Linked DNA regions of Homo sapiens: all the other regions are linked to region 3. Evidence: fine-mapped expression QTL. A gene starts in region 3. Each other region holds a variant in brackets. All regions are shown on one strand. Distances are from middle to middle.

Evidence for each region. PIP is the estimated chance that this variant, and not a neighbour inherited with it, causes the effect.
Region 1: its variant is fine-mapped to the expression of LINC03124 in whole blood (INTERVAL, PIP above 0.99).
Region 2: its variant is fine-mapped to the expression of LINC03124 in lymphoblastoid cells (CAP, PIP 0.95). The same link has a PIP of 0.9 or more in lymphoblastoid cells after a statin.

The regions. Positions count from the first base shown.
Region 1 is chr2:131,823,682-131,834,131 of GRCh38, reverse strand. It overlaps the pseudogene LOC647996 and the pseudogene LOC100859919. Among named protein-coding and RNA genes, the nearest start is that of LINC03124, 150 kb to the right of the region's middle. The variant C/T (reference allele first, on the strand shown) is at 6,357.
Region 2 is chr2:132,637,386-132,646,606 of GRCh38, reverse strand. It overlaps GPR39 (G protein-coupled receptor 39), which reads right to left. Exons shown (of 2, transcript NM_001508.3): 2 at 25-1,506. The coding sequence ends at 1,001. LYPD1 (LY6/PLAUR domain containing 1) reads left to right here. Exons shown (of 3, transcript NM_144586.7): 3 at 327-3,321. The coding sequence ends at 562. Among named protein-coding and RNA genes, the nearest start is that of LYPD1, 28 kb to the left of the region's middle. The variant GATTC/C (reference allele first, on the strand shown) is at 6,639.
Region 3 is chr2:131,677,385-131,687,834 of GRCh38, reverse strand. LINC03124 (long intergenic non-protein coding RNA 3124) reads right to left here and starts at 5,336. Exons shown (of 10, transcript NR_167889.1): 1 at 4,847-5,336; 2 at 3,016-3,126; 3 at 1,624-1,771; 4 at 1,394-1,505. RefSeq lists a silencer at 5,364-5,413 and an enhancer at 5,784-5,903.

The sequences.
Region 1 (10,450 bases), 150 kb before region 3:
CAGTGGGAGGAGGCTTCTGGAAGAGACGTCTAATGTCTCCACACTTGGGCTTTGCCGGCCTGGTTTGAGATCCCACAACCCCTGGGGGTGTGCAGAGGCAAACGCCTCCCCAGGCAGTGACAGGCACGTCCCCCACCCCAGGGCCACTTCTGCCTGCCTTTGCCACGCTTGGCGGCTGCTGTGTGCACTTCTGAGCTGGAAGAGGCCGGGCATTGGTGGTCCCTGGACTGGGCCCTGCAGGTGCTGGGCCTCCAGGCCTGGCATGAGCCCGCTCTGCAAGAAGGGAGGGGACAGCTGGCTTCAGCCAGGCTCGGTGGACACCCTGGCCCTCTCGGGGCAAAGCCGCCAGTCCCCAGTGTTTCTCAGGGATGTGACTGAGGCCCAGGAGGGACCCATGAGGGTCTGTTTACAGAGGCTGGGCAGGGGCCACTTGGCTGTGGGGTGCACACTGCCCCAGCACCTGCTTGCCCTCCACGCTCACCCAGGGCCGCAGCATGCCTATGGCTCCGCTTCCAGCCAGGAGCCCTGAACACCGGTGTGCAGACCCACCCTAAAGGGCGGCCCAGGCCCCGTGCTAGGCAAGGCTGGCAAGAGACCGAGGGCAGCATGTGAGGCCTCTCCTGGGAGTGGGGGTTGTGTTTCCCACAGTGGCCTCAGCTGTGCCCCCGCTCAGGTGAGCCCACAGGCAGGATCTGGGAGGCACTCCTCCCAAACACTCCACTCAGACCATAAAGCACTCCTGTTTCACTCTGCGTGTCCGTTCTTCTCCCTGCACCTCTGCTCCCGCTTCCCCGGCCCAGGCTGCCATGGGTTGGCAGGGAAGTCCTCTGAGGCAGGAGGCTGCCCAGCAGTGGTGTGAGGACGTCCCACCAAGTCTGGCCACACCCTGGGTACATCCCAGCCCACCTATGCCAGGGCTCAGCAGCTGCACCCAGCACACTTGGGGACCTCAGCCCCAGGAGGTGGAAGTCAACTCTGCAAGGCTCCCAGGCAGCTGCCTGCAGCCCTGCCCCCCCAACCCCGCCTTCAGGCCCCTGCCCCCTCCAGCTGTCAGCAGCACCCAGCCTCCACCCCCACAGCTACTGTTGCCATGAGAACCCTGCAGGGCGGGCAGGAAGAGCGTGCCAGTGAAGGGGAGGAGGTGGCCAAGCTGGAGGCTCCTGTGCCTGGGAGCTTTGTGGCCCCAGGGTGTGGGGCAATCACTGCAGTCCCTGAGCAGGTGCTGTGGCCCACAGCAAGCTTAGGAGCCTGGCCCCTTAGCCCACAGCCCATGAGGTCAGGGCCAGGTTCAGGGGTTCTCCTGGTGTGGGGATGGGTCAACAGTACGTGAACTTGCCAGGATCGCACCATGGATGGCTATGTTGGGGTTTCAGTGGGCCCTGCTTTGAGCAGCGCAGAATGGGGTAGGTCCTGCCCTTCAGAGCCAAGGGCATTGGCTCCCCACCCCTCTGCCAAGCTAGAATGTTCCCAGGCCCAATGCCTTTGGGAGGGGCTGGCAGAGTGGGACGATGACATTACCAGGCAGGTATGATAGGTCACGTGCAGGCCTTCCCAGGCTGGCAGGGACACTGGATGCAGGAGTGGCCTCACCCAGAGAGGATGGCATCCTGGGGACACAAGAGACTGCAAGGGCCATCTGGCCCCAGGTACCCGCCAAGATTTTGGCATTGGCAGCCTTGAAGCCGATAGGGGCTGGGGAGAGGCCAGTGGGGCAGAGAGTAGCCCACCTGCTCCTGCCTCGCCCGACAGGAGATGCGAATTCCAAGATGCCCCTGACCAATCTCTGCAGCCCAGGCCAGGGCTTGGGCCCCTCCTCTCAGGCAAGTGTGTTGGGGTGACACTGGCGGGACTGGCAGGCTGCTCCGGGCCACAGGACTCCTGCTTAGACACTGAGGTCTGTGTCTTGGGGGTGCTGCAGGGACCCTGTGCTCTGCACATCCCCAAATTGGAGCCAGCGCAGCTCACGATCCCCAGCTCCACCATGCAGCCCCCACTGGGTGTGGCCCCTTTAAGTACAGCCCCTTCAGCTGCCATCGGGGGCAGCACTGAGCAGCCAGGTCAGGACCCGCGCTGCTGCCTGGAAACTTCTGCTGGTGCCGGGGAGACGCAGCAGTGCCAGGGACAAGGAGGAGTCGACCTGGGGGTAGCACAGCCCACCGGGGCACAGCTGGAGCAGCACCCAGGTAAGGGGCTAGGGGCCGAGTTGCTGAGTGTGTCACTGTCATGGGCAGGGGAGGCTGCCTTAGGGAGGCCGGAAGGATGAGGATTCCCCGTCCCCAGGCAACACCAGCTGTATCCCTTGAAGGGCCGCTCCCAGCCAGGGCAAGGCAAGGCAAGGCAGGGCTGGGAGGCAGGGAAGGCCGCCAGCCATCCCCGTGGGCTCCAGAAGGCCTTGGGCCCAGGAGAGTGCTGACCCCACCCCCATCCCCACGGGAGGGGGTGTCACCGACAGCTGCAGCCAGCAAGGCCGACTGTCACCTCCCTGGGGTGGAGCCTCACACCCTGTCATCCGGCCGGATTCCGGCCTGGCCTTGAGCTTAGCATGAAAGAGGGAGCAAGAGGGTAGACAGTCCTGCCACGGGTGGGATGGAGGGGGGAGATGGGGTGGGCGGGGGAGGCTGGGATGGGCACAAGGCCCGGGACTCGTGGCCCTGACCCAGAAAAACAGCCCTGCCAGCAGGAAGCCCCTGCACACCTGGGACACAGAGGGGGGACCCGGCCAGACCCTGAGAGGCCCATTCACCTGAGGTTCTGCCCTGCAAGGGGCCTGGCCAGGTACCCGCTTTCCCCAGCTCACTCTGGGGTAGACCCCCCCCCCAGACCAGGTGTTGGGCGTGCAGAGACCAGGCCTGTGGCCACTCTCTGACGCATCCCCCAGCTGGCTCTGGGACCACAGAGGGGTTGGCAACCCACATCTGAACCCTGGCCAGCCTGCAGCGTGGGGGCCTAAGAAACGCAGGTTTCCATGGAACCTTCTGAGTGAAATGGGGAGGGCCCTCTCCTGCAAAGCAGTGGGGCTTCCCCCACCCTCCGCCTTGCCCACCCCCAGTGGGCAGCTTCTGGGCCTGCTGCGCAGCTCAGAGGAGAGGGGCTGCCACGAGCTCGTGGCTCGATGGTTTGGGACTGCCGTGCAAACCCTAGGGGGGTGTCCTGTGCATTTACACAAAGCTGGGGCCTTGTTTCAACCACCCAAAAATACTTGGGGTCAGAAAAGGTGTCGGCAAAGGAAAGGGAGATTTAGGGCCCAGGTATGCTCTCTGGGGGCATTTTTCTGGCCTGGGGCTCACGGGAAGTTGAGGGCACCTAGGCGTGGGTCCTTGCAGTGCTGGGGGCGGGGCTCTGTGCTCGGCCCGGCCAGCAGGTGGGGTAGTTGGTGTCACCCACTTGGTGCAGAGCCGGCTAAGGCTGAGGCCCAGGGACTCGCCTTCGACTGTGCACGATCGGAGGGGTCGCTCTGCAGTGGGCCCTGTGACGGGGGCGCAGTCACTGACGTCTCCTGGGGCAACACCTATAAATAAGGCCCAAATGCGGTCCGTCCTTCCAGCTGCGGACACCAGAGGGTGCAGCCCCAGGACCACGCCCCCACTCCCCTACCCCACCCGGAAAGGGGTCCGCCCGAGCCGGCCCCGCGGTCACTAGTCGAGGGAGGGGAGGCCCTGGAGCTTCACGCGGGAACCACAGCCACCACTAAGCCTTTCTGGCCCGCCCGCCCCATCGCAGGGAGAGGATGGGGGAGGGGCAGGACGGGCGCCTGGACAGCTGGGTTCCTCCCGCAGGTGCTTCTGACTCCGGCATGGAGGAAGCGCCCGCTTTCTCGGCCCAGGCCCGCAGCCAGGGCTGCTCCGCCCGCTGCGCCCCAGGTAAGCCGGGCCAGCGTGGGGGAGAAGCGGGGCCTGGGCTGCGGATGGGGCCGCCCTGACCCGCATCTCCCCCCAGGGCAAAAGCCCCGCAAGGCAGTGTGAGCTGGAGCCGCCAGCCTGAGGACCTCTTTTAAGATGACCCGTACGGACGCTCCGGACCTGCTGGTGTCGACCGTGTACCAGGACATCAAGGTGGCGACCCCGGGACCCGCTTCCAAGCGCTCGCCATGTGAGCGATCCGTGGCCCGGCCTGCTGAGCCCGCGCCTTTCAACAAGCGCCACTGCCCCAGCTTCGACTTCCTGGAGGCGCTGGACCGGCCGACCACGGAGACCCTGCCGGAGCCACCGCCCCCGGAGCCCGCTGTGCCGCGCGCCCGGACCCGCGAGGCCGAGCCACGCCGCCGCGCCCGCTCCAAGAGCGCGCCCCCGGGCCTGACGCCCGCGCCCGCCTTGCCGCCCGTGTTGCCCCGCCGAGGGCGGGAGGCCCAGCGTGCGGCGCGGGCCGAGGCATCGCCGCGCCCTTGCCAACTAGCTGCGTCCCATCAAGTTGCAGCCGCAGCTGGGCGGCCCAGGCCACATCGCGCCCCTGTGCGCCGCCGCGGGCCGCCGCGCACCTCCCGAGCCACCCGCGGGTCCCTATCCCTACGTGCGCTCCTTCCGGACATCAAGCCAGACGACGCAGTGCTCCAGCACGCCGCCTGGGGCTCACGGTCCTGCGGGCCCGCCGAGGCCGCGCCCTGGGCCCGCCCCGCCCCGCAGTTCCACGGCCTCACGGTGCCCGGGCCCCTCCATATGGCGCTGTCGCACACCCCGACGCCAAGCGACTCATACTGTGCGGATCCCCGGGCGTTCTACTGCGACGGGCCCCTGCCTGGGCCCCGGGACTACGCCGAGCGCCGCAGTCTGCCCTTCATCACCCCTCCGGGCCCCACCCAGTTCTTCTATACAGAGGAGCCCCAAGGCTTCCGGGGCAGCTTTGCGGCCAGTCCCGGTCCAACCTTCGACGCCTACTGCCCCAGGCCCTATCCGTCGGAGGAGCTCCCAGGGCCCAGTCCAAGGTGCATGGGGGGCTACTACGCGGGAGAGGTGGGCACCTTCCCAATCCAGGAACCGTCCTCCCGCTCCTACTATGGGGAGGCTCCCCGAGCCTACGGCCTGCCCTATGGGCCCGGCTATGTCCCTGAGGAGCCCCGGGCCCACTCCACCGCCCGCCCTTTTTACACGGAGGACTTCGGAAAATACCGTGAGCGTGACGTCCTGGCTCGGACGTACCCGCACCAGCGTAGCAGCCCAGCCTGGGCGGACTGGGGCCTGCGACCCTACCGCACCCTGCAAGTGGTGCAGTCCTCTGACCCCGACCCGTTGCTCGCCTCCTGGCATGGCGGCACCGGCACCAGTCCACCCCGGCTGGCTACCGACAGCCGCCACTACTCGTGCTCCTGGGACAACGTTCTGGCCCCGGGCCGTGCGGAGACCAGTTGGGCCGTGGCCGCAGCTATGAGAACCTGCTGGGCGCGAGGTGCGGGAGCCGCGAGGCGTGTCCCCCGAAGGCTGGTGCCCGCCCGTCGTCGTGAACCTGTCCACCTCGCCCAGACGCTATGCCCCACTGTCCCTGTCTGACACGTCGCTGACGGAGAAGGGCCGCGCGGGTGAGGGCCCGGGCCGCAACTGGTACGTGATGCCCGAGATCACCATCACTGACAATGACCTGCACGCCACCGAGCGCGCACCAGGGCCTGGGAGTTGCCCGGGGGCTGCACGCGGCCACTTCCCCATGCGGCCCCCGACGGCCCCACCTCTGGCCGCCAGCGGATCCTAGAGCAGCTGTACGAGCTCATCAAGGACCTGGTCATCGACTTGCGACCCACTGCCAGCCAGGCCTCAGAGCCCACAACCCACTGCCTGGGCCCCCAACTGTGCCAACTGCTGGACTCGCGGCCCGCGGGCTCCGGGGCCCCCGCGCTGGTGCCGCCACGCTCGCCCCCAGCCTCCGCCGGCATCGTCCAGGAGCCCGCGGCCCCGGGAGAGGTGGCCGACATGTCCCCGGAACCCAGTGCCGACGAAGACGACCTGATGACCTGCTCCAGTGCGCGCTGCTGGCACACAGAGACCATGTTCAACGCCTGCCTCTACGTCAAGTCCTGCCACAGCTGCTACACCTACTACTGCTCACGCCTGTGCCCGGCGAGGACTGGGACGTCCACAAGGCGCGCTGCGTGTACGGCCGCGTGGGCAGCGTGTGCCGCTACATGCTGCAGTTTTGCCTTGACAGTGTCCCAGTGCACCGCGCCTTCTCGCCCATGGCTGGTGTGGGTTTCCTGTCGCGCAGGCGCAGCGTGCTCTTCCTGGGCTTCCCAAGTCCAGGCTCAGCCGAAAACTTCCTGCGCTTTGGCCTGGAGGGGCTGCTGCTATCCCCCACCCAACTATCGCTGCGTGAGCTGGCGACACACGCAGCGCCCCTGGGCAGCTACATACGCGAGCTGGCAAGCCGCTGGG[C/T]GCCTCTACGAGCCGGCAGAGCTTCCTGCTCAGCGTGTCCGTGGCCGTGGGACCCAGCACCGCGCCCCTGGGGACATCCGCCCTGCCCGCGCCCACGCCACCCAGCCATGGGCCAACAGTGCGCAAGTTAGCCAAGGTAGCGCTGGCGGCCGGCAGCCCCTGGTGGCCGCCCCTGGTGCGGAGCAGCGACCCCGACATGAAGACGCTGATCCTGACGCCACCGCCGGGCACCCACGTTTTCCAGTATCTTTATACAGTATCCTATGTCTGGTACCAATTTATTGTATTAGTTCATTTTCACACTGCTATCCAGAAATGCCTGAGACTCGGTAATTTATAAAGAAGAGGGATTTAATTGACTGAGTTGGGCATGGCTGGAGACTCCTCAGGAAACTTACAATCATGGCAGAAGGAGAAGCAGGCACGTCTTACATGGCAGCAAGCGAGAGAGAGAGAGGAGCAAGCCGGGGAAATGCCAGATGGTTATAAAACTATGAGATCCCATGAGAACTCATTCAGTATGATGAGAACAGCATGGGGAAACTGCCCCCGTGATCCAATCACCTCCCACCAGGTCCTTTCCTCAACATATGGGGATTAAGGGGATTGCAATTCAGGATGAGATTTGGGTGGGGACACAGCCAAACCATATCAGCATACCTAGGTTACTAGCTCATATCTGGAGCCAGCAATGGGGTTTGTCCCACCAGAATCACTCAAGCGTAGAGTGATGTGGTTCCCCAAAGGAAAACTAAGGTGTCGTTTCTAGACAAAGAGGATTCAATGCTGGGAAGGCAAAAGCAGTGTATCTATTCCATAGTAGGATGTGAGTCATCAGTACACAGGAGATAGTAAGAAGGCTAGGAGCAGTGGTTGACACCTGTAATCCCAGCATTTTGGGAGGCCAAGGCAGGTGGATTGCTTGAGTCCAGGAGTTCAAGGCCAGCCTGGGCAACATGGCAAGGCCTTGTCTCTACAAAAACAATACACAAATCAGCTGGGCATGGTGGCATACACCTGTAGTCCCAGCTACTCAGGAGGCTGAGGTGGGAGGATCGCTTGAGCCTTGGGAGGTCAAGGCTGCAGTGAGTTGTGATCACGCCACTGCACTCTGGCCTGGGTGATAAACTAAGACCCTGTCTCAAAAAAACAAAAGAAAAGAAAAATGATAACAACAGTAAAACCCAGAAAGAAGTAACAAAAGCACCACTGTTTTATCTCTATGTTTTTACTTTCTGGTAGTTGAAAGAGAAGAAATTATTGGCCAAAATAATATATGTACATATATCCTTAGATCTATATCTATGTTTATCTATATTTATAGTCATATAGTCATTTGTATTGGAAGACACAGCTCCTGAACTTTATTGCTCTTCAGATACTGATCCATATGAGATTCAGAAGAGAACAGGTAATGCATTTCAGATTTATTTTTGATGAATATATAGCATCAAGCTTCAGGAACTGATTTGCTTCTCATGTGCATTGGTACTAGTTGGACTGTCATCACGCTGTGATATCGGTCCTCTCTGAAGGACCAAGAGCTCCCCTTCTCTCCTCATTGCTTTAGGCCTGACCTTTACTGAGATCCCCCTCCTAATAGTCTGTAGTCTATGACAGATTGGCAAAGTAAAGTTTGGCCATTTCTATGTTAGTTTATTTTCTGCAGTGGCAAGAAACAGTCACTGAGCATTGATTTCTTGAGTATAATTTGTCTGTGTTTTAAAAGTTTAGAAATGTGTTCTTTGGACTACATACTTGGCCTAAAACACCCAGTGGACTACCACACATATACCCCCATCACTTGCACTACATCACCAATGGTAGGGTGGCCACATTCACTGTTTACAAGGATCTATTCCTTAGGACTGAGTCATTAGCACAATCCTGTCTTCCTAGGCTTATTAGAGAAATCGAAGACAGGATATTTGAATTGAAAGGTACCTACAAATCCATCTTCTTTCCCACTGATTGATTGAATCCCTTTCATACTGTTTCTTGAGGATGGTCAATCAGTCTTGCTTAAGCACTTCCCCCGGGAGGAAAGTCACTGTTTACAGATTCTCCAGCTGCTTGCATTGCTAACAGTTTGTATCATGAGAAAGTTCTCTCCCATAGAGTTGCTCTCTCATTAATAGTCACCTGTTCTTAAAGCAACAAGGCCAGTTTTGAGGAATCTCTTTGTGCCCCTTTTCAGTAGTAGATCAGGGTTTGCACTTCAAAGGATATCTTGGGTGTCTTTTTATGAGTCAAAGGGTTATCATCTTTATTGCAGATCAGTAACAAGGCAGGCTTCTGGAATATGTATATGGTTTCCATATAAACAGTCCCCAAACTCATGTATCAACCTGACAAAGTCTAGACTCAAGAGTTTGTTTCAAGAAGAAAAAAGAAGAGCCAGGCATGATAGAAAGAATCGCAAGCCTATAAATTGTGCTGAAGTGTGTTTATATAACTAGATTAGAGTTTAAATAAAGCACTCCAACGGTAAACTAAACTACAAGTCCTAGTGGTAAAAGCAACCTCTGAAGAGTCAGTGGAACAGACAGGTTACACTTGTTTTGATTGTGCACACAAGCAAACACAGATTTCCAAATGGATGGCTAGCACCTCAGGACATTGCTTCCAGAGGGCAAATTTCATCATTGTCATTCTCATTTTGAGAAACTGAAGTTCAAAGAGATGAGTGACTGCCCTAAGACAGAGCCCTTATTTCAAGGTCCAGGGATACCTATGACCCCTCTGACCTAATCCAGGTGACAATTTACAGCTGATTCATATGACCCTGTTGACTCAAGCCAGTACCCCAAAGCTATTTCCCATTTAATGAGACAAAAATCTCACCTGAGAGTGCCATACTAGCTGTGAATTTTCATCAGATTCTTAGAGATGCCTGCGACTTTCCGCCTTCTCCTCCCATCAATATTTAGAACTCTTGAATCATAGTTCAATTATCAATCAAGTTTTCTAGAGAAACAGGGATATAACTTGTTCAGTGATTTTGGCTTATGCTAAGGGCTAAGCCAGTCAGAAAAGAAAAATAGAAGAACCAAAGTAATATTATCAAGCAATATACTCAAAACCAGTCGAAGAAGAAGCTGAAGGAGGAAGTCTGTGGGGTTTATTTTTATTTATTTATTTGAGACAGAGTCTCACCCTTCACCCAGGCTGGAGTGCAGTGGCACAATCTCAGCTCACTGTAAGCTCCGCCTCCTGGGTTCACACCATTCTCCTGCCTCAGCCTCCTGAGTAGCTGGGACTACAGGCACCCGCCACCATGCCCGGCTAATTTCTTGTATTTTTAGTAAAGGCAGGGTTTCACCATGTTAGCCAGGATGGTCTCGATCTCCTGACCTTGTGATCTGCCCTCCTTGGCCTCCCAAAGTGCTGGGATTACAGGCGTGAGCCACCGCGCCCGGCCGTTTGTGGGGTTTATAAACAAAATCAATGCTTTATAAAATTGTATAGCCATGCGTTAAGTAAGTGTAATTTTAAGGCAAACTGCTTTATACTGTATGTGTACGATTACAGATACAAAACTATACAATCATATATCACTTAATGACAGGGATATGTTCGGAGAAACGCATGGCTAGGCATTTCTGTGCAAACACCATAGAATGTACTTACACAATCCCAGACAGTATAGCCTACTATACACCTAGGCTATACAAGTATAGTCTATTGCTCCTAGGCTACACACCTACACAGCGTGTGACTGAACTGAATACTGTAGGCAATCGGAACACAATGGTAAGTACTTGTGTATCTAAACATAGAAAAGGTACAGTAAAAATATAATATAAAAGGTAAAATAAGGCCAGGCATGGTGGCTCACACCAGTAATCCCAGCATTTCGGGAGACAGAGGCGGGCAGATCACCTGAGGTCAGGAGTTCGAGCCCAGCCTGGCTAACATGGCGAAACCCCATCTCTACTAAAAATACAAAAATTAGCCAGGAGTGGTGGTGCGCCCCTGTAATCCCAGCTGCTTGGGAGGCTGAGGCAGGAGAATCACTTGAACTCGGGAGGTAGAGGTCACAGTGAGCCAGGATTGCACAACTGCACTCCAGCCTGGGCATCTCAAAAAAAAAA
Region 2 (9,221 bases), 960 kb before region 3:
AAAAGCTGTGTCTTGTACACAGTGTGAACTCTGACTTAAAATGTAAATAAGTCTATTTAACAGCTCTTTATTAACAGGTATTCACAGGTATTGGCATCTCAAATCGCTTTTGGAACAGTTTTGTTAAAACTAATGAAATAGTGCCTGTCTCTTTCACCATCTATCTTGAATATCAATGAGACAATCCGAAGCACTTCCCTGACCTCACCTAGTCTCTGGGCTGTGGGAGGAGTAAGGAAGAGCTGTCCGTTTGGATTTGGGCTGAGAGGGACAGCTATTCTTTTGCCGGTGCACGTTAACTCAGCTCCTTTGGGTCTGTGTTACAGGGATCATGTACCGCAAGTCCTGTGCATCATCAGCGGCCTGTCTCATCGCCTCTGCCGGGTACCAGTCCTTCTGCTCCCCAGGGAAACTGAACTCAGTTTGCATCAGCTGCTGCAACACCCCTCTTTGTAACGGGCCAAGGCCCAAGAAAAGGGGAAGTTCTGCCTCGGCCCTCAGGCCAGGGCTCCGCACCACCATCCTGTTCCTCAAATTAGCCCTCTTCTCGGCACACTGCTGAAGCTGAAGGAGATGCCACCCCCTCCTGCATTGTTCTTCCAGCCCTCGCCCCCAACCCCCCACCTCCCTGAGTGAGTTTCTTCTGGGTGTCCTTTTATTCTGGGTAGGGAGCGGGAGTCCGTGTTCTCTTTTGTTCCTGTGCAAATAATGAAAGAGCTCGGTAAAGCATTCTGAATAAATTCAGCCTGACTGAATTTTCAGTATGTACTTGAAGGAAGGAGGTGGAGTGAAAGTTCACCCCCATGTCTGTGTAACCGGAGTCAAGGCCAGGCTGGCAGAGTCAGTCCTTAGAAGTCACTGAGGTGGGCATCTGCCTTTTGTAAAGCCTCCAGTGTCCATTCCATCCCTGATGGGGGCATAGTTTGAGACTGCAGAGTGAGAGTGACGTTTTCTTAGGGCTGGAGGGCCAGTTCCCACTCAAGGCTCCCTCGCTTGACATTCAAACTTCATGCTCCTGAAAACCATTCTCTGCAGCAGAATTGGCTGGTTTCGCGCCTGAGTTGGGCTCTAGTGACTCGAGACTCAATGACTGGGACTTAGACTGGGGCTCGGCCTCGCTCTGAAAAGTGCTTAAGAAAATCTTCTCAGTTCTCCTTGCAGAGGACTGGCGCCGGGACGCGAAGAGCAACGGGCGCTGCACAAAGCGGGCGCTGTCGGTGGTGGAGTGCGCATGTACGCGCAGGCGCTTCTCGTGGTTGGCGTGCTGCAGCGACAGGCGGCAGCACAGCACCTGCACGAACACCCGCCGAAACTGCTGCGAGGACACCGTGTACAGGAGCGGGTTGATGACCGAGCTGAGGTAGAAAAACGTCTCCGAGAAGGGGAGGAGGATCATGTACGCCCGGAAGTAGGACCTCGTCCAGTCGTGCTTGGGTTTGGCCGCAGCCATGATCCTCCGAATCTGGTTGGGCATCCAGCATACGGCCAATGTCACAACAATCAGCCCTGGGCAGACACGAGCAGGAGGGAGAGACAGAGAAAAGAAAAACACAGCATGAGAACACAGTAAATGAATAAAACCATAAAATATTTAGCCCCTCTGTTCTGTGCTTACTGGCCAGGAAATGGTACCAATTTTTCAGTGTTGGACTTGACAGCTTCTTTTGCCACAAGCAAGAGAGAATTTAACACTGTTTCAAACCCGGGGGAGTTGGCTGTGTTAAAGAAAGACCATTAAATGCTTTAGACAGTGTATTTATACCAGTTGATGTCTGTTAATTTTAAAAAAATGTTTTCATTGGTGTTTGTTTGCGTATCCAGAAAGCAGTTCATGTTATCCATAAATCTGGTTTTGTCTTTTTTTGTTTTAAAGAAAAAGATGTATACATACAGTATAGCTGCATTAGATAAAGCAGTGTTTGTATTTTAAAGGATGTCTGCACAAAGAAGACCTAGTGATATTTTTAAATCAAATGGAAGAAGTGTCCCTTTGGCAACAAAGCAGCATATTTAATGACACTGGTTTTGCATTCAGTTTCAGGGGAAGCAAAGTCAGGAATAGCCTGTCGCCAAGAATGTTTTTTGGACATATACATACTAGGTATGCACACCTATAATCATGATGCTCATATCTGCAACAGCATATGTGTTTCTTTTCAGACACTTTTAGATCCCTCATGTGGGGAAAAAGAATTATTCAGAGATGGCAAATATAAAACTTCCTTCTAGTTCAGCCAGTAACATGTTCCCTTCCTTTGCAGCACTGAGCTGTGCTGTCAACAGCCCAGAAGCAATCAGGCCCTAGAGAAGAGACCACTCAAAGGCCCTTCTGTAGATCAAATGTTTACTGCATGTACATTTGTTTGCATGCCCACATATTTGTATTCCAACTTAAGTAACCACCACCAGTTCTGCAATTCTGACTGACAGAGATAAAGATGCTACATAGACCACAAACAACTGAAATCACAGGTATCATGAGAGTTTAGTTACAGTGACAAAAGCAAAAAAGAACAAAGGAAGATCAGGGGATCTGTGAAGCATTTGCTCTCTCTTTTCGTAAGGAGCCAAGACACCCACAGTAAATTCCCCTGTAGAGAGCTGCTACCTTAAAGCAGGATTTGCATTTTCAGAAATGCTTCCTTCCTCTCCTACATTTCAATCGTAGTAAGAAACATTTACTCACATTTTCAATCTTCTGATTTTCTAGAAACCCTAGGGAAGTGACAGTTGGCAATGAATGCTTCCTGCCTATGACCCATGGTAAATATTCTATTAATAAATGGGGGCCAGACATGGTGGCGCATGCCTGATATCTCAATACTCTGGGAGGCCAAGGCAGAAGGATCACTTAAGCCTAGAAATTTGAGACCCACCTAGGCAACATAGCAAGACCCCATCTCTACAAAAAAAGAAAAACTTAGCCAGGCATGGTGGTACATACACACCTGTGGTCTCAGATACTTTTTGGGGGCTGAGGCGGGAGGATCACTTGAGCCCAGGAGGTGAAGGCTACAGTGAGACACGAATGTGCCACTGCACTCCAGCCTGGCTGACAGAGTGAAACTGTCTCAATAAACCAATAAATAAATGCTCCAGGAAAAAACAGCCACATTCACACATCCAGAATTGAGCCTCCTGTATGCACTGGCCTGAGTATTCCTTGCCTGCTGTTGGAGGGGACCCTAGCTGTGTTCAAATCCTCCACAAATCCATATGTGAGCAAGGAAGGCCTTGGAAACTCTTCTCCTTTGTTAATTTCCACAGGTTTCTCCTGTCAACTCCCAGCCTAAAACTTTGAAATATAAGCCAATTTGTTTATTTTTTCCTTTGAGTTTGCTATCCTGAGAACATCCAGTAAATCTAAAACTAAAATAAGTGAACTAACATATTGATCTGATGAAAAAATGGTTAAAAAAATACCATCTTAATTCAAGAGTTTATTCTGAATCACCTAGTTACAGATGCTGGATAGGAACAACAACAGCAACAACAAAAATTTCTGATTTTAAAAAAATACATAAGAAATCCGGGACTTTTCTCCCACTTCGAGGAGTACAGGTGTTCCCAGCCACTTGTGCTATTCCAAATTCATCTTAAGTTCCTGCTCCTTGTTTGCATCTCATCCAGCTCTGATTGAGAGGCTCATCTCATTAATTGTGAAAGAACTAGGAAAAAGACCATACCTGAGGAAGCCACATATTTTCACAAAGTTTTGCATTTTTTTTCTCTTTCCTGTCACTGAATTTCAGAGAACATGTACAACCATCTTCATCTGAGGAGTTATTGCCCAGAATATGGAAATTGCACGGTTTTAGATGTGAACTGTGCTACACCATGGGAGGTTGTACTTCAGGCGGTGAGAATCCAGAAAGGCAATTAGAAACACCTTGTACTAACCATGAGCTGAACATAGCACAGCTTTTAAAGCCAACAGACAAAGGCAATGAGAAGATAAGGCAGGCTTGTGAAACAAGGGGAGAGAATGATAACATTGCTTTTCTTCTGCCCTGTCTTTGCTCCTCATTCTCTTGATCTGTTGTTTACATGACCCTTACTCTTCTGACAGCTTCCCACATGCACTGGCCTGGTGTCAACTGTCCTTCACTGATCATCCCATCAAAAGCAGCAGAGTTCAGTAAAAAGCAAGACCCAGCCTCCAGGTACAAGGCAAAGGCAGGGGTAGATAAAGAGTTGTGGTGTTGTTTGTAGCCAGGATAAAATTCCTGCTCTGAAGTCAAAAATAAGTGGGAAGAAGCTCAGTGTGAACAAGTAACAGAAAACCAACTCAGAGTCACAATGATGAGGCAAAGAAGGGGAAGTTTGGTTTTCTGGGTGTAAAAGTAGGTAGATATAATAGCAAGAACAAACTTGTAGAACAAGAGAGACAAAGACCTGAATTAGAAATGCAGAGATTTTCATATTGTGCACCAGATGGGTGTTTTGAAATAACCTATAATAATGCAGAATATTTATTACTGAGTTTTTCCTAAGCCAGTTTCTGTGCTAAGCACTCTGCTAATTTCCCATGCATTTCTCACTCCTGACAACAACCTGGAGAGCTTTGACCTGGTGAGGTCAAAATAGTTATTCTCTTAATTTAACAAATGAGGAAGTGCAGGCTCAGAGAAAGTTAGTTGCCCAAGTGCAATAGCTAGGACACATCTTTGCCAGACTCCAAAATCCATGCTGTGTATTTTTTTCTCAAAACACAATATTGTTTGCTATTCATACTTTCAGTTTGAAAAATACAGAAACACAAGCAAGAAAGTAAACACCATAATTCCACCATGTAAAATGGATATAGCACAGTGCTGTTCACTGGAAATACAGAATGTGAGCCATATATGTAGTTTTAAATTTTCTAGCAGCCACATTCAAAGAGAAAAAGAGATGGGTGAAAACAATTTTAATACTGCTGTTTAATCCGATACACTCCCAAAATAATTATTTCACATGTAATTTCAACATGCAATCAATATAAAAATTATTGATGAAATGTCTTACATTTTTTAATACTAAGTCATTGAAACCCAGTATAGGTTTTACTCTTACAGTATGCCTCAGTTGGGAAGAGACACATGTGGCTAGTGTCTACAGTATTGGACAGCACCCACTAAAAGAATCCTTCCTAGCCCCTCCCCAGAGCAGCAAGGCTCCCCCTCTTCCCATTCCCCCAACTGTCCCTTTAACAACCACATTCCAGAGAGTTATATCAAACCAAGGAAGCCCCAAGGAACCTCCCACATAGCCTGTATTTGTTACACTACAATGCAACCAATGCTGAATTAAATCTCTGAGTATGCATTCTCAGCTATAGCGAGGAACAGGGTTAGCCAGTCTTTTCCTAGAAAGCCTTCCATATAAGGGAACTCTAAATCATTTAAAACTTATATAATCCTGAAAACACAAGGATGTATTTTGCATTTCTCATTCTAAACTTTGCCTAGCTATCCTAGAATAATGCAGATCATGCCAACTACTTGGCAGGGCTGTTGGGATAAACTTCCCCTGCCTCAACTGGAGGTGGGGAAAATGGCTGGCGCTTTTCTTCCTGTGTTTTGAAAGATAGTTTTGCTCTAGGAAAATGGAGCATTAGGCATACAGGTACAGCCAATGACAAACATGAGACATGTACCAGTGAGCACGGTAATGGAGGTGAGCCTCTCAGGGGAAGAAAACCAAATTTGACCCCTTGTAAAATTTGTCATTTTATAATGACAAGTAATTGCTCATTTTTACATTAAAAAAAGTTTGTTGTTCTAGATGATACACCGTTGAGAATAAATACTGCATCCCAAGGTAACTTTCTATTCTGGCTGTTTGCGATTGGCTCTACTCTAGCCCAGCTACCCTGTGGCTAAGACAAAGCTTTAAAGTCTTATTCACGCCCTAATAGAGTGTATTAAAGATTTGACTAAATGCATGTTTGGCTGCAATCACAATTTGGATTTGTATATCACATCTGGAAAAAATCTATAATTCTTTGGTCTGTGTGGTGTAATGTGCAGCCCACAGTTAAATAACTTTAGTGTGAACTTGAATGAAGATCAATGAACTGAACCCACTCATGTAAAGCAGGTAAACTGTTTTAACTGAATTACTGATAGATCTGTATTATACTCCAGACAGCCTTGCACTCTGGGCTATGAAATACCTTCTTATCTGGTTTTCCACATAAAGTACTTTCATTTTTCCTCCTTGATCACTACACTAAAATGACAAGAGCCATTAGATGATGACACAGATTCATTCTTGGCAGAGTCATGTTGTTTAAAAAACAGAAGAAATGCAGATGTCTAACAACACCCTGCACTGAAGCCTGACATTTCAACAGCATTAGAGGCAGCCTGCTTGGTTTCATCTTAAGTGCATTAAGCTCTGCAGGCTGGGACATGGTGGCATTGATGTATCTGACACCATGCTCTATTTTCTCCCCTCTAACCTTTAAAGTCAAAGTAACTACTAGTGTGTTCCCCAGAATTCCATCTTAGAGTCATTAGAGATCAGGAGATCAAGAGGAGACCTTGAGACCAGCCTTGTAACTCCCTTGTCTTACACATGAGCAAACTGAGGTTAAGTGATTTGCCCAAGATCTCCTGGGGCCAGGGTGGTCATACTACTTAGAACACTGGATT[GATTC/C]TACCCTCGATTGCCAAGCAAGCCCATTATTTTTTTTTAACTGTAATTTTAGGGTTTTTTTCCAGCTTTAGACTCAAGTGCTGACCATTGACAGCATGGGATGCAGCAAGTGGCATGTCTATACAACACCTTTCCTATGCACTGTCTTGCTTCAGTTTTAGAAGCGGGTCCTCCAAGAACAGGCATTTGGCAAAACTCTGGAGAACGTTTCCTGCTCAAAGGAAGGTAAAGTCCCAGCCCAAGGGAGCCAAAGAAGATTAAAACAAAATATTACTTCAGGTCATGACTTGGTGACCTAGCCTACAATGACTCCATCTGTCTATCTATCATCTCTCTTCTACCCATTCATCCGTCCATCCATCTTACATAAGTACCTACTAAAAATGGATACTTAGCTTGTATTAAGCACAAAATATCTGGAAAGTTGATCACCTCCCAAGCAAAGATATTTTGTGTAATTTAAATAAATTCCCAATATTAGCTTTTCTACTTACTGTTGGAGTCCCATTTTATGGAATCATTGAAGCCTTGAGGGTGCAGGGGTATGTTGATGATGATTTAGGATTTCTGTGATTATTATGTCTGCTCTGTCCTCCTCCTGCCTGTTCCTGTCTCTATTTTTCAATTTCTCTCTAATCCTGACCATAGTGAGCAAGGGTTAGACATCTCCACCTCCCCACCAGCCCCCAGCCCTTATCCCCCTTTTATCCCCCCATTCAAGTTCTCTGTACTTTGCTTATTTACTTGGCAATTGCTTCTTGATGGCTGGGGCCTATTAAGGATCCTGTCCTAGGGACTGATGATACAAAGCTGAGCTGTACAAGGTGGCCCCAGCCTGGTTTTCTAAGGGCTAGGAGAATGGTCTGAGCCGAACAACACTGCAGCAACAAGAGCTGGATAAACATTCCCACAGGCAAGAACATTCACACAGAAAGTTAAGGAGAGTAAGAGTCAGCCTGGAAAAGGGCAGCACCAGCAGAGACAGGGCATGAGCAGGGGATGGAGAAACACAAAGGCAACTTACCTTCTGTGAGCTGCAAGGCTCAGCGTGGTTGCAACAAAAGGGTGGGTGGGGACAGTGGGAAACCAGCATGGTTAGAGAGCACTCCATCAGGCTTTGTGGACAATAAATTAACTTGCATGTAGTAGGGTGAGAAGCATCTGCTTGTCAACTGACATTTAAATAGCAATTGCCAGTGGAAAGTAAGCATATGGTTAGTTGAATGAAGAGCCAGAAAGAGACAAATACATCCAATAAAAGATTTTAGCACTTTCTCAATTTATATGTTAGTGTTTGCAATCTGCTTCTGCAAGTCAGCTGAGATGTTGATCTCACTCACTGACCTTGTCTGACCCGAGGCGTCCAAATCAGCACCAACCTTGGTTTAGTCTTTAACGGCTGAGACAGAATTCTCAAAGGAGTGTTCCCTGGAACAGCAGCATCAGCGCCACCTGGGAACTTCTTAGACATGCAAATTCTTAGGCTCCAACCCAGATCTCCTGAATCAGAGACTCTGAGGGTGTGGCCCACAATCTGGGGTTAACAAGCCCTCTGTTGACTCTGCTGCTCACACAAGTTGGAGAACACTGGTCTAAGAGAAGCATAAATTGAGGTGGAGCCCCTGGCTCAGTGGGCACTTGTAGGGACCCTAGCACTGTCACTGAAGCCTTTAAAGCATCACATTTTCATCAGTGTCTACAGTCAAAGCAGACGGTAGCTCCAAACTCCCTCCCTCTGGTTCCACTCCTAGACAACCGTCCTGCCAGTCCCACTTATTTCCACACACAGCTCTTCCTCATCCTGTCTTCTTTCTTCTCCTATCCTTTCTCCCTCTGTCTCTTTTTCCCTCCCCTTTCCTCTTATTTTTCCCCACCTTTCCTTTTTTGCTTCCATTTCTCCTCTTTCTGTACATGTTTCTCCAGTATGTAAAGCAATCACATCTCTTTTCTCTTCTATTTTTCCCTCTTGCTCCCTACCCATCTTTATTCAAGATCACCACAAATCAAGCCATGTGCAACCATTCCCAGCCCACACCTCTCCCTTCCCATTATTTATTCGGATCATCTTGAGAAGGCAATTGGGTCAGCTTCAAGCCAGTTCCTTAATAGCTAACAGGGAGGTGGCAGAGAGGGCAATCTCCGCCCATTGCTGAGTTTGTCAACGGAAGGCAGAGAGGCATTGGGAGCGGCATGGATGGGATGCAGTTGACCATGGACTGACTGCACCTTCCCTGAGAGCTAAATCCAGGTACCATGTCCTCTGACAAGGTCTAAGTCCAAGCTAGGACTTTCTTGGAAACTTTGCAATCACTTTTCTAGTGACCTGCAGCTTGGAGGTCTTCGTTTATGCAGATCTTCCTTCTTGCCCTTTTTCCTACTGAGGAATTTCTTTTAGAAGACAGAAGAACTGTTGGGATTTGGTTTTCAGAAAGGCGCAGGCCACAACTTCAAAATGATGTAAATGCCACAGATGGCTGCCTCTGTCCATGAAGACAGACGGTTTGATGTCTCATCCTTGTTCCAGCTGTTTGATGGAGCCCAGGAAAGAACTCTCTCCCCAGTGCAACTCCATCCACCAC
Region 3 (10,450 bases):
CATTCCTCTATGTCTGCATTAACCAAAATGCCCCACTCTAACTCCCCCCATTGTATACCTTTACTATATGGCCAACCTTTTAAAAAATACGTAAATACACAATGCTAAAATTCATGCAGACCACAAAACACCCTGAATTTCTAAAGCAATCCTGAGAAGTCCAAACTACATTGGTTGTGTCACACTTCCTGATTTTTAATTTCATTGAAAAGCTAGGGACCCCATTTCACACAGAGCAGTGGAACAAATTAGAGGACCCAGATGTAAACCCACACCCCTAACACCATCTGATCTTCAAAAAAATCCACGAAAATAAGCTTTGGAGAAAGGACTCCCTCCTCTCAATAGATGGTGCCAGGATAAACTGCTAGCCAGTTGCAGAAGAAAAACAGTGGGCCCCTGTGTCTCACCCTGTACAGAAATTAACTCAAGATGAATGAAGATGTAAACGCAAGACCTCAAACTATGAAAAGCCTGCAAGAGAACTTGGAAATACCCTTCTTGACAGAGGATTTGGCAGAGCATGGCTGTGCCTAAGTCCCCAAAAGCAATTGCAACTAAAACAATTATTGACAAGTGGGGCCTAATATACAAAAGAGCTGCTGCACAGCAGAAGAAATTACCAACACAGTAAACAGACAGCCTACACAATGGGAGAAAATGTTCCCACATCTGCATCTGATGAAGTCTAATATCCAGAATCTACTTCAAATACATTAAGCAAATAAATCAGAAAAACAAAAACTCAATGAAGAAAGGGTAAGGGGCATGAAAACATGCATCTCAAAAGAAGGTTTACAGCAACCAACAGACAAGACATTTCTTTACCTCAGGAATCATCAGAGAAATGCAAAGCAAAAGGCCCATGAGATAGTATTTCACACATTCTGATGAATGACAATTATGACACAGTCCACAAGAATGAACACCAGCAAGGCAGAGGAGGAGGGATGCTGGTCTGCTGTTGGTGGAAATGCAAACTAGTTCGGACACCATGGAAAGCAATGTGGGGATTTCTCAAATAACTTTCTCAACATCACTAAACCTCACAAAAAAATGTCCATGAAAACCACACTAAGATTCTGTCTCATTCCACTCAGAATGAGTACTACCAAAAACAAAACACGAATTTTTGAAGGTGACATCCAGTGTAGACTTACAGAAAGGTAACCTCTTAAACGCTATTGGTGGGGATGTAAATTAGTATACACACTATGAAAAACAGCTAGAGGTTTCTGAAAAAAATTCACAGTACAACTACCATGTCAGCTAACAGCCCCACCACTGGTTCCACATTTAAAGCAGTTGAAGTCCCTAGGTTGAAGAGAGCTATCTGCCTTCCCATGGGTACTAAAGCACTCTTAACTGTGGCCAAGGTAGAGAACCAACCTACCTGTTCAAACACAGCTGCAGGAATGAGGAAACTGCTGTACAGATACACCACGGAATATGTTGCAGCCATAAACCTTTGGGAAATCCTGCCATCTGCAGCCACATGAAGAAATCTGAAGAACAAGGTCCAAAGAATAAGCCTGGTAGAGAAAGTCCCATGCCACGTGATCTCACACATGTAGACTGAAAAAAGCTTTATCTTCTAGAAGTAGAAAGTTCAATAGGGCTTACCAGAGGCTGCTGGGGAAGTGGAGGCAGTCTCGGAAGGAATCAGTGATGGGTACAAAGTTACTCTCAGATGATAGTGATCAATTCTGGCCTTCTATTCCACAGCAGCGTGACTAGCCTTAACACAAATGTATCATATATTTCAAAGTAGCTGGAAGGAAAGATTCTGAATGTTGTTACCAAAAATAATAACTATATGAGATGAAGAGATGCTAAATAACCTGATTTTATCATTATTCAACATATACATGTATGAAAACCTTCCTTGTACCTTCTAATTGTATACATTTAGTATATGACAAATAGTGTTTTAGGAAGTATAAAGAAACAATGCCAAAATTTATGTGGAAATGTGAAACACCCTGAATTTCCAAAGCTATTCTGAGAAATACAAACCATACGGGATGCATCACATTCCCTGAGTTCTAATTAAATGAAAATCCGTAGTTAACAAACCCATATGTTACTGGCATAGACAGAGAAACACAGACCAGTGAGCAAAATGAATGTGCTCAATAATAAACAAAAATTTATATGGAATGAACACATTTTTCAAAACACCACCAAAATGACACAACAGGGAAGACTTCCGAAACTAGATATCCATATGCAAAAGGGTAATACAGGACCCTTATGGTACTAGATACACAATAATCAACTCAAAATGATTAAAGATTATACACAAAACTTGCAACCATAAAGCTCCTATAAAGACAACCTCGGGTGTGCGTATATTTAGAGCAACTTGGATGTATGCTCAGGGTTCACAAAAAGTAAACAAAAATACAAGGGAAAAAAATTATTGACAAGGGACTGCTTTGGTAGTGATTTTGTTTTTTCTTGATTAGTAACCAACAGCACAGCCACCAAGAAATTATGCACATGTGGGACCACGTCAAGCTGAAGCATTTGTGACCAACAAAGGAAACAATAAACAAAATAAAAAGGCACACTAAAAATTACAAGTTTGGGATAAGGGATTATTTTTGAAAAGGTACAAGCCAGTCATACTACCAGCTGGCAAAAAAATAACAAAACAACAGAACAATTGCCAGACAAAAACTGGGCAAATAACCGGATTAGATATTTTTCCAAAGAAGACAGGAAACTGACCGAATGTCTACAAAAACGTGGTTAACATTACTACTCATGAGAAAAATGCAGATCAAAACCACACTCAGATCTTATCTCACTCCAATAGAATGAACATTACAAAAAGATCAAAATATTTAAAAAGACAATTCCTGGTATGAATTGCCAGAAAGGGGAACTGTTTGTGCAAACATAAATTAGTATTAACACTATAAAAAACAGTTAGAGGTCTTGCAAAGAATAGGAAAAAAAGAAATACCATTCCATCTAGCAGTCCCATTACTGGGTGTAAATTCAACCTACCTGTTCATCCACAGATAAAGAGATCAAGAAACTCTCATATACATACACTAGGAAATATTCTTCAGCCATCAAAATAATGAAACAGTCCCATTTAGAGCAACGCAGATGAACCTGGAAAACATTATGTTAAATGTAAGGAGCTAGGCCTAGAAAAACACTGCATGATACCACTCATGTGAAATCTTAAGATGTTTATCTTAATGAAGTAAAAAGCACAATATTGGTTACCAGAGTTTGGGAGATAGAGGGGGAATGGGGAAGGATTGATTATGGAAACAAAGTTATCTTAACATTAAAGGAACAAATCTGAGGTTCTCCTCCTCAGCCTGGTGACTGGAGTTAACAATATCATATTTTTCTAGAGTAAGAAGGGAGAATTTTGAATGTTCTCCCCACAAAAAAAAAAAAAACCTGGATGAGCAAATAGAGATCCTAAGTACCCTGATTTGATCATTACCCAATCTGTATGTATGAAAATGTACCCCTAATTATGGACCTTTATGTTGTGAAAAAAAGTTAACAGAAATAAATACGTATTGCTAAAAATCACAGGGAACCACAAAAGCAATGAATATCTAAAGGAATCCTGAGAAATACAAAGTGAAGACCCACAATCCTTAATATCAAATTACACTGCCAAGTTGTAGTTATACAGCTGATATATGATACTTGCATAAACTATGGACAAAAACAGGGAGGACAAAAACATGATCAACACAAATATGGACACAATCAACTGACTTTGATAAAGAACACTGCAATGTGGAAGGCAGAGAATGAATACCTTTGACAAAAATGATATCCAGATGCAGAAGCGAGAAATAGGACCTTATTTTACACGATGTATGAAAATGAACACCCACTCCCCCAAATTGAAGGCAAAACAAAAGACCATAAACTACAAAATGTTTTTAACTAAAACACAGGATGAGCATATATTTTGGGTCACTTGAATCTCTGCTCACCTTTGCAAAGAGGAAAATAAACACCCTGGAAGAAAAACCTCATTGACAATTAAATGCTTTGTCACTGACATATTATTTTCTTATATGGGTGACGAAAATTACATGCATGAAACGCAAAAATAAATATCATGTTGACTACATCAACATGAAAAGTTTCTGCACATCAAAGAAAACTACTTTCCAATTAAAAAAGCATCCTATAGATTAGGCAAAAATTTCAGGCAATCTTGTAATTCACGAGGAGTTGTCATCTAATATGTACACAAAAAACACTACAAAGTAGCAAAAGCATCCAATCTAATATTTTGCAAAGAACCTGAACAGACAATTCTGCACAGCCATAAAATCGAACAACAAATAAGAGATAAGGTCCTCAAAATCAACTATTCATTAGAAAACTGTAATTCAAAACCACACACAGATAATCTCACACTTATCGAATATTCCTTGATTTTTTTAAAAAAATAGGAGGGGCTGGGAACGGTGTCTCATGCCTGTAATCTCTGCACTTTGCGAGGCTGAGGCAGGTGGGTCACCTGAGGTCAGGAGTTTGAGACCAGCCTGACCAATATCGTGAAACCCCATCTCTACTAAAAATACAAAAATGAGCTGGGCATGGTGGCGGCGCCTGTAGTCCCAGCTACTCTGGAGGCTGAGACAGGAGACTTGCTTAAAACCAGGCAGCGGTTGCAGTCGGCCGAGATGGCGCCACTGCACTCCAGCCTGTAAGACAGAGCAAGACTCCGTCTCAAAACAAAAACAAAAACAAAACAAACCCCAAACCAAAAATAGTAGGAATGCGGGTGTGGTTTTGGAGAAAGGGAAACTCATACACTGTAGGTGGAAATGAAAATTAGGATACACACCATGGAAAACAGCTAAATAGCTGGAGACTCCTCAAAGAACTGAAAATACAGATGCCCCCTGCTCTAGCGAGGTCTCTTTTTAAAGGTGCTGAGGCATCAAAAATAATCCTAGACTCCAGCTCAGAGGCCCCTGGGGCTCCGAGGGACCCAGGTCCCGCGTTTTACCGCCAGCTGTGGGCCAGGGCGCTCCTATACGCTGGACGCGGGTCGGACATTGGCATAGCCTTCCCGGCCGGGGTGCGGACGCTGCAGTAGCCAGGACCGCACAACCGCCCCCAAGCGGAGGACTCGGGCCCAGATGCCCACGAAGAAGTGCGGGCACGAAAACAGGGAGAGGCAGGGAAGGAGCAGGGAGGGTTCCCGGTGGGGTCCACGCCCCCGCCACTGACCGCGGAGACCTGTCTCCTACTCCACCATCACATGGAACCCACCACCGCTCAGAAGCTCGCTCTGACCACGCTGCTGCTGCTGCAGGGGCGTCGCAGGAACTGCAGTCTCAGCTCCGTAGGGACACGCACGCTAGCAGCATCCCTAGTGCCAGGTTGAAGCTCCACCCCCTCTTAAAGGGACCGCGGCTCGGACTTGCCAGAAGCCGCTTAGGGTTGCGGCACAGGCTGAGCCTCTGCCCAGCCCAGGGGACGACGAAAGGCCCCTGGTCTCTCATCCTCCCCAGCTTTCGGGCCCTAGAAGTCGCAGGAGCGCTCCCTGTGACCGCCTCCCGGAGATCGGCTCCCTTTGCCTAGGGAGCGCCCAGGACCTGCCCCTGCCCTCCTCTGGACCTCAGCTTCACCATCCGCAAAGGAAGCAGCCTCGCTAGAGCTCTGGGGGTCCCTCAAGCTTGGCGTCTCAGGATCCAGGGTGGGCTCCCCTGCCCCTCTGCAGAGGGGGCCCAGAGAACCACAGAAAGCTGGGGGCTGGAGGGACAGTTCGGAGGGCAGCAGGGCCTCCCCGGCCTCACTGTCCGCATCTGTCCTGTGGGAGCTCGCGGGCCTCGCTATGGCCCAGGCACCCACAGCCTCACCAGGGCTGCCTGGGTCACCGGGCTCTCCAGGAGGCAGGCAGGGGCCCTGGGGTCCAGCGCTGCCCCCATCTCAACTCTTTCCTTCATCAGGGCCCACGAGGGGCCCTGTGGACTGGACCCAGGCCCGCCCATTCCCAGGGAGAGGCTATTAATTATTTCCTCAATTTCAGAGCCTGTTATTGGTCTATTCAGAGATTCAGCTTCTTCCTGGTTTAGTCTTGGGAGGGTGTATGTGTCCAGGAATTTATCCATTTCCTTCTAGATTTTCTAGTGTACTTGTGTAGAGGTGTTTGTAGTATTCTCTGATGGTAGCTTGTATTTCTGTGGGATCAGTGGTGATATCCCCTTTATCATTTTTTATTGCGTCTATTTGATTCTTCTCTCTTTTCTTCTTTATGAGTCTTGCTAGCGGTCTATCAATTTTGTTGATCTTTTCAAAAAACCAGCTCCTGGATTCATTGATTTTTTTGAAGGGTTTTTTGTGTCTCTATTTCCTTCAGTTCTGCTCTGATCTTACTTATTTCTTGCCTTCTGCTAGCTTTTGAATGTGTTTGCTGTTGCTTCTCTAGTTCTTTTCATTATGATGTTAGGGTGTCAATTTTAGATCTTTCCTGCTTTCTCTTGTGGGCATTTAGTGCTATAAATTTCCCTCTACACACTGCTTTAAATGTGTCTCAGAGATTCTGGTATGTTGTGTCTTTGTTCTCATTGGTTTCTAAGAACATCTTTATTTCTGCCTTCATTTTGTTATATACCCAGTAGTCATTCAGGAGCAGGTTGTTCAGTTTCCATGTAGTTGAGTGGTTTTGAGTGAGTTTCTTAATCCTGAGTTCTAGTTTGATTGCACTGTGGTCTGAGAGACAGTTTGTTATAATTTCTGTTCTTTTACATTTGCTGAGGAGTGCTTTACTTCCAACTGTGTGGTCAATTTTGGAATAAGTGCTGTGCGGTGCTAAGAAGAATGTAGATTCTGTTGATTTGGGGTGGAGAGTTCTGTAGATGTCTATTAGGTCTGCTTGGTGCAGAGCTGAGTTCAATTCCTGGATATCCTTGTTAACTTTCTGTCTCGTTGATCTGTCTAATGTTGACATTAGGGTGTTAAAGTCTCCCGTTATTATTGTGTGGGAGTCTATATTTTGGTTGCAGATGAGTTTATAGTCAAAGTAAAAAACACACGAAGGGCATTCACATTTCCAGGAACAGAAGCATCCTGTCTGGTTTTTCAGAGGTGAAGGGAGCAGTCTGAAGGGGCTGTGGCACAGGTGTGTCTATAATCAAAGCTCACAGCCGAGGCCCTGGGGGAGGTTCAGGTATGCCCCAGGGGGTGCGCCTCATCCAGCACTTCACTGCCAGGGGCCTCATCTTTATTAAATTCTGGGCCTTTTCCTGGGCAATAGTTACACAAGGTGCGTTCAATGAACCCTATGTCCTGTGGCTGCCACCCATTGCAGGGTCACAAAGGTAATGATCACCACCCCCTCCACCTTCTGCTGAGGGTCCGGGTGACCCCCTGGTGGTGTAACCCAGGCCCTCACCCCTAAGGGGTCCTGAGTCTTGCTCACCACGGAGTCCTTGGTCTAGGGCTCCCACACTTGTCCACGTACCATCAAATGCTGTGTATTGAGAGGCGCTTGTGTAGAGCCCCTCCTGCCCCAGGCAGCATAACCCTGCTTCTGCTGAAACCACGGTCCAGGTGGTACACATTTTTCTGCCCGCAGGTCCCATGGAGGAGCAGCCTGAGGACAAAGCAGCACCCAGAGCTTGTTTTTTCAGAGAATTTGGCCTTGTCCTGTCTAGAAGCCCCACAGCTGTGGAAACCAGGACCTCCTGCTTTTCAGAGCCTAGATGTGCAGGATATAGATGCACCTCAGAGGTCCTGGGTGTGAGGTGGAAGGTTGGGGGACACTGGGCTTCCTACTGCTGTGCTCCCATTGCCGCATCTTCTACCTGGTGGGACAAGGCAGCTAGCAAGGGTGACAGATTCACCCAGACACTGTGTCCTCCCACATCCTGACCTGGCACCTGAGCCAAACTGCTGGGTCTGAAGCTCCCAGGAGCATGTGTGTGCTGTGACCAGTGGACCTATGGCATGCGCCCTCTTCCTCCCTCTATGGCATGGTATCAATTCCTCTGATGGTGTCATGTGAGGTCTCGTCCTGATGGGTAGAACTTTCTATAAACCATCCCATGGCCCTGGGGAAAGGCAAGCTCATCCCTTCAGGTTTAGCTGTTTCTGTTAAATGCAACCCTGTTCTTCCCAGGGCATCAGGGCCCGGTGCAGTTGTCCCAGCCTGACAGGAAGTCCCCTTGATGGTTGTGTGGAGGGTGCAGGCTGGGCCTAGCTCATGACCCTGGCAAAGGGCAGGTGAGCCCTGGGGCTGACCACCTGCACTTTCTGTTTGGTGGTGGGAGATGTGGGGCAATATTTCTTGCCTTCCCTTTAGAGAGCATCTCCCAGCCTGCCCAGACCACTAGACCCCTAAAAATGTGACTTGTAGGCAGGTCCTGCCTGGCTCTCTGTGGTGCTTTTCTCTCCCCTCCAAGCATCTGTGACTCCCAGGCCTCCAGCCCTGCTGGCTTCCCCCATCTGAGCTCCTGATGCAGGGGGAGGACTGTACTGTGGCAGGCAGCATGCCGGTTTACACAGTTCTGGGACAAAACTATAGGTATACCTTATTTTATGTCCCAGGTAAATGAATCCAATTTCTTGATGCTTTTTTGACACAGAGGGAAGAAATGCATTGGTGAGCTCCATGGGCCAGAGCTCAGGTCCATGCTCAGGCTCTGGGAGCAGCTGCGCAGCTCTGGAGCTGTTGCGGGGCCCAGGGAAGGGGTGGGTGCTGTGTCTTTGCTCACTGTGTTAAAGGCTTTATTTGTTTCTTTGTTCAGCTTGTTTTCTTTGACCCCTGTTTAGCAATACTGAAAATCAAGCATTTCTAAGAGGCGGAAACCTTGATTTGGAGCAGGGGCGGGGCATTGGGTGGAAATGGAAAATAGGTTGATAGTGGGAATTTCATTTTCTGGAGCTCACGTGCAGCCTCTTGATGGCCCCGTCACAAGTTCACCTGATGACCTGAGTGGCCACTGTCTTTCTCCTGAGTGGTTTGTATGCTTATCTACCAGCATTTATTATTTTTATTTTTTTGCATGATAAGTTTCCAAGGAACCTTAGTGATGGGGACTGTCTCTCTTAAAATTAAGTTGTGTAAATAACTCCCAGAGCCGTGCTGGTAAGAAACAAAACAAAACAAAAAGAACTAGAAGCTTGAAACAAACATAGGATTTCTGCTGGAAAAAGGATGCAAAGCAGGCCTGCCTGCAGCACTTCCCCAGAGCTAATCCTTGAGCCGAAAGAGCTTCCTGGTGAAGCCTCGCACTCTCTGTAACAGGGCGTGGGGGGACCGAGACATGAGGGCTCCAGATTTGACCATGTTTACCTAGTTATGGGATTTCAATCATGTCTTTTAAATTCTTTGAGCTGCAGTTTTCACATATATAAAGTGAAAATATTTTTAAATCTTTAATTTGTATTATAACCTTGTGTAAAGATAAAATAGTACACTTGAAAGCATTTTAGCTGAAGTCAAACGTTCACGTGTGTGCATGCGATGGCTTCTTAATTATTTTAGGGCTTATCCTGGTTTTACTGGTACTGTTACTAGCACTGCTGCTTCTCCATATCTCTGAAAACTATGAAATACTTAGAACTGAAGCAACAAGAAGCACCTGTCAAAGCGTTCTATGGCCGATGACAGATTTGACACAACTAGATATAACAATATGTTAGATGGTGCCTACAGCACTGCTGAGCAGAGACTTCATGCTGTTCAAAGTCAAAGGTGTCCCTAGAATTCTGAACTTGCTGAAGCCGCCCTCAGAACTGAAGTTGAGAAAAGTACATTTTCAATTAAAGAAAGTCTGAGAGAATGTGTTGCCATCACACCCAAACCACAATAAATGCAAAAGAAAGCTGCTCAGGTTGAAGAAAAATGATAACAATTGGAAATTCTAGTTCTCAGAAAAGATGAAAGTGTGCCAAAAATAGTAAACATGTGGAGGGGAAATTGCTATTTTAATGACATCCTCCAGGAATTACAACATGTGCAGAAGAAAAATCTATGACAACATGGCACAAAAGATCAGAGGAGGGAGGAGGGTAAGGTAAGGTTTTTATATTTTATATACAGTGTTATGATATTTAATATACTTTAAGTATTTTTATTTTAATTTCTAAAGAACTCACTAAAAATAAATAAATGAAACAAAGAGTCATAGTTAAAAAAAAACAAGATACAAAATCCATACTAAAAAAAAAGAAAACCCCATAAAACAAACAAACAAACAAACAAATGAAAACTACAATAATCCAGAAGAAGACCAGGAAGGCAGAACAGAGACTGTCAAAGTAGGTAAAAAGGAAACCTCAATATCAGCTTTTAAAAAGAAATACACTTATGAGGTAAAGATACAAATAGATTCAAACTGAAAAGATGGACTAATATACACCATGCAAATCTCTGTTATCAAAAACTGCAGCCAGTGTATTAATGGCAGATAAGACAGACTACAAGAAAGACAAGCAT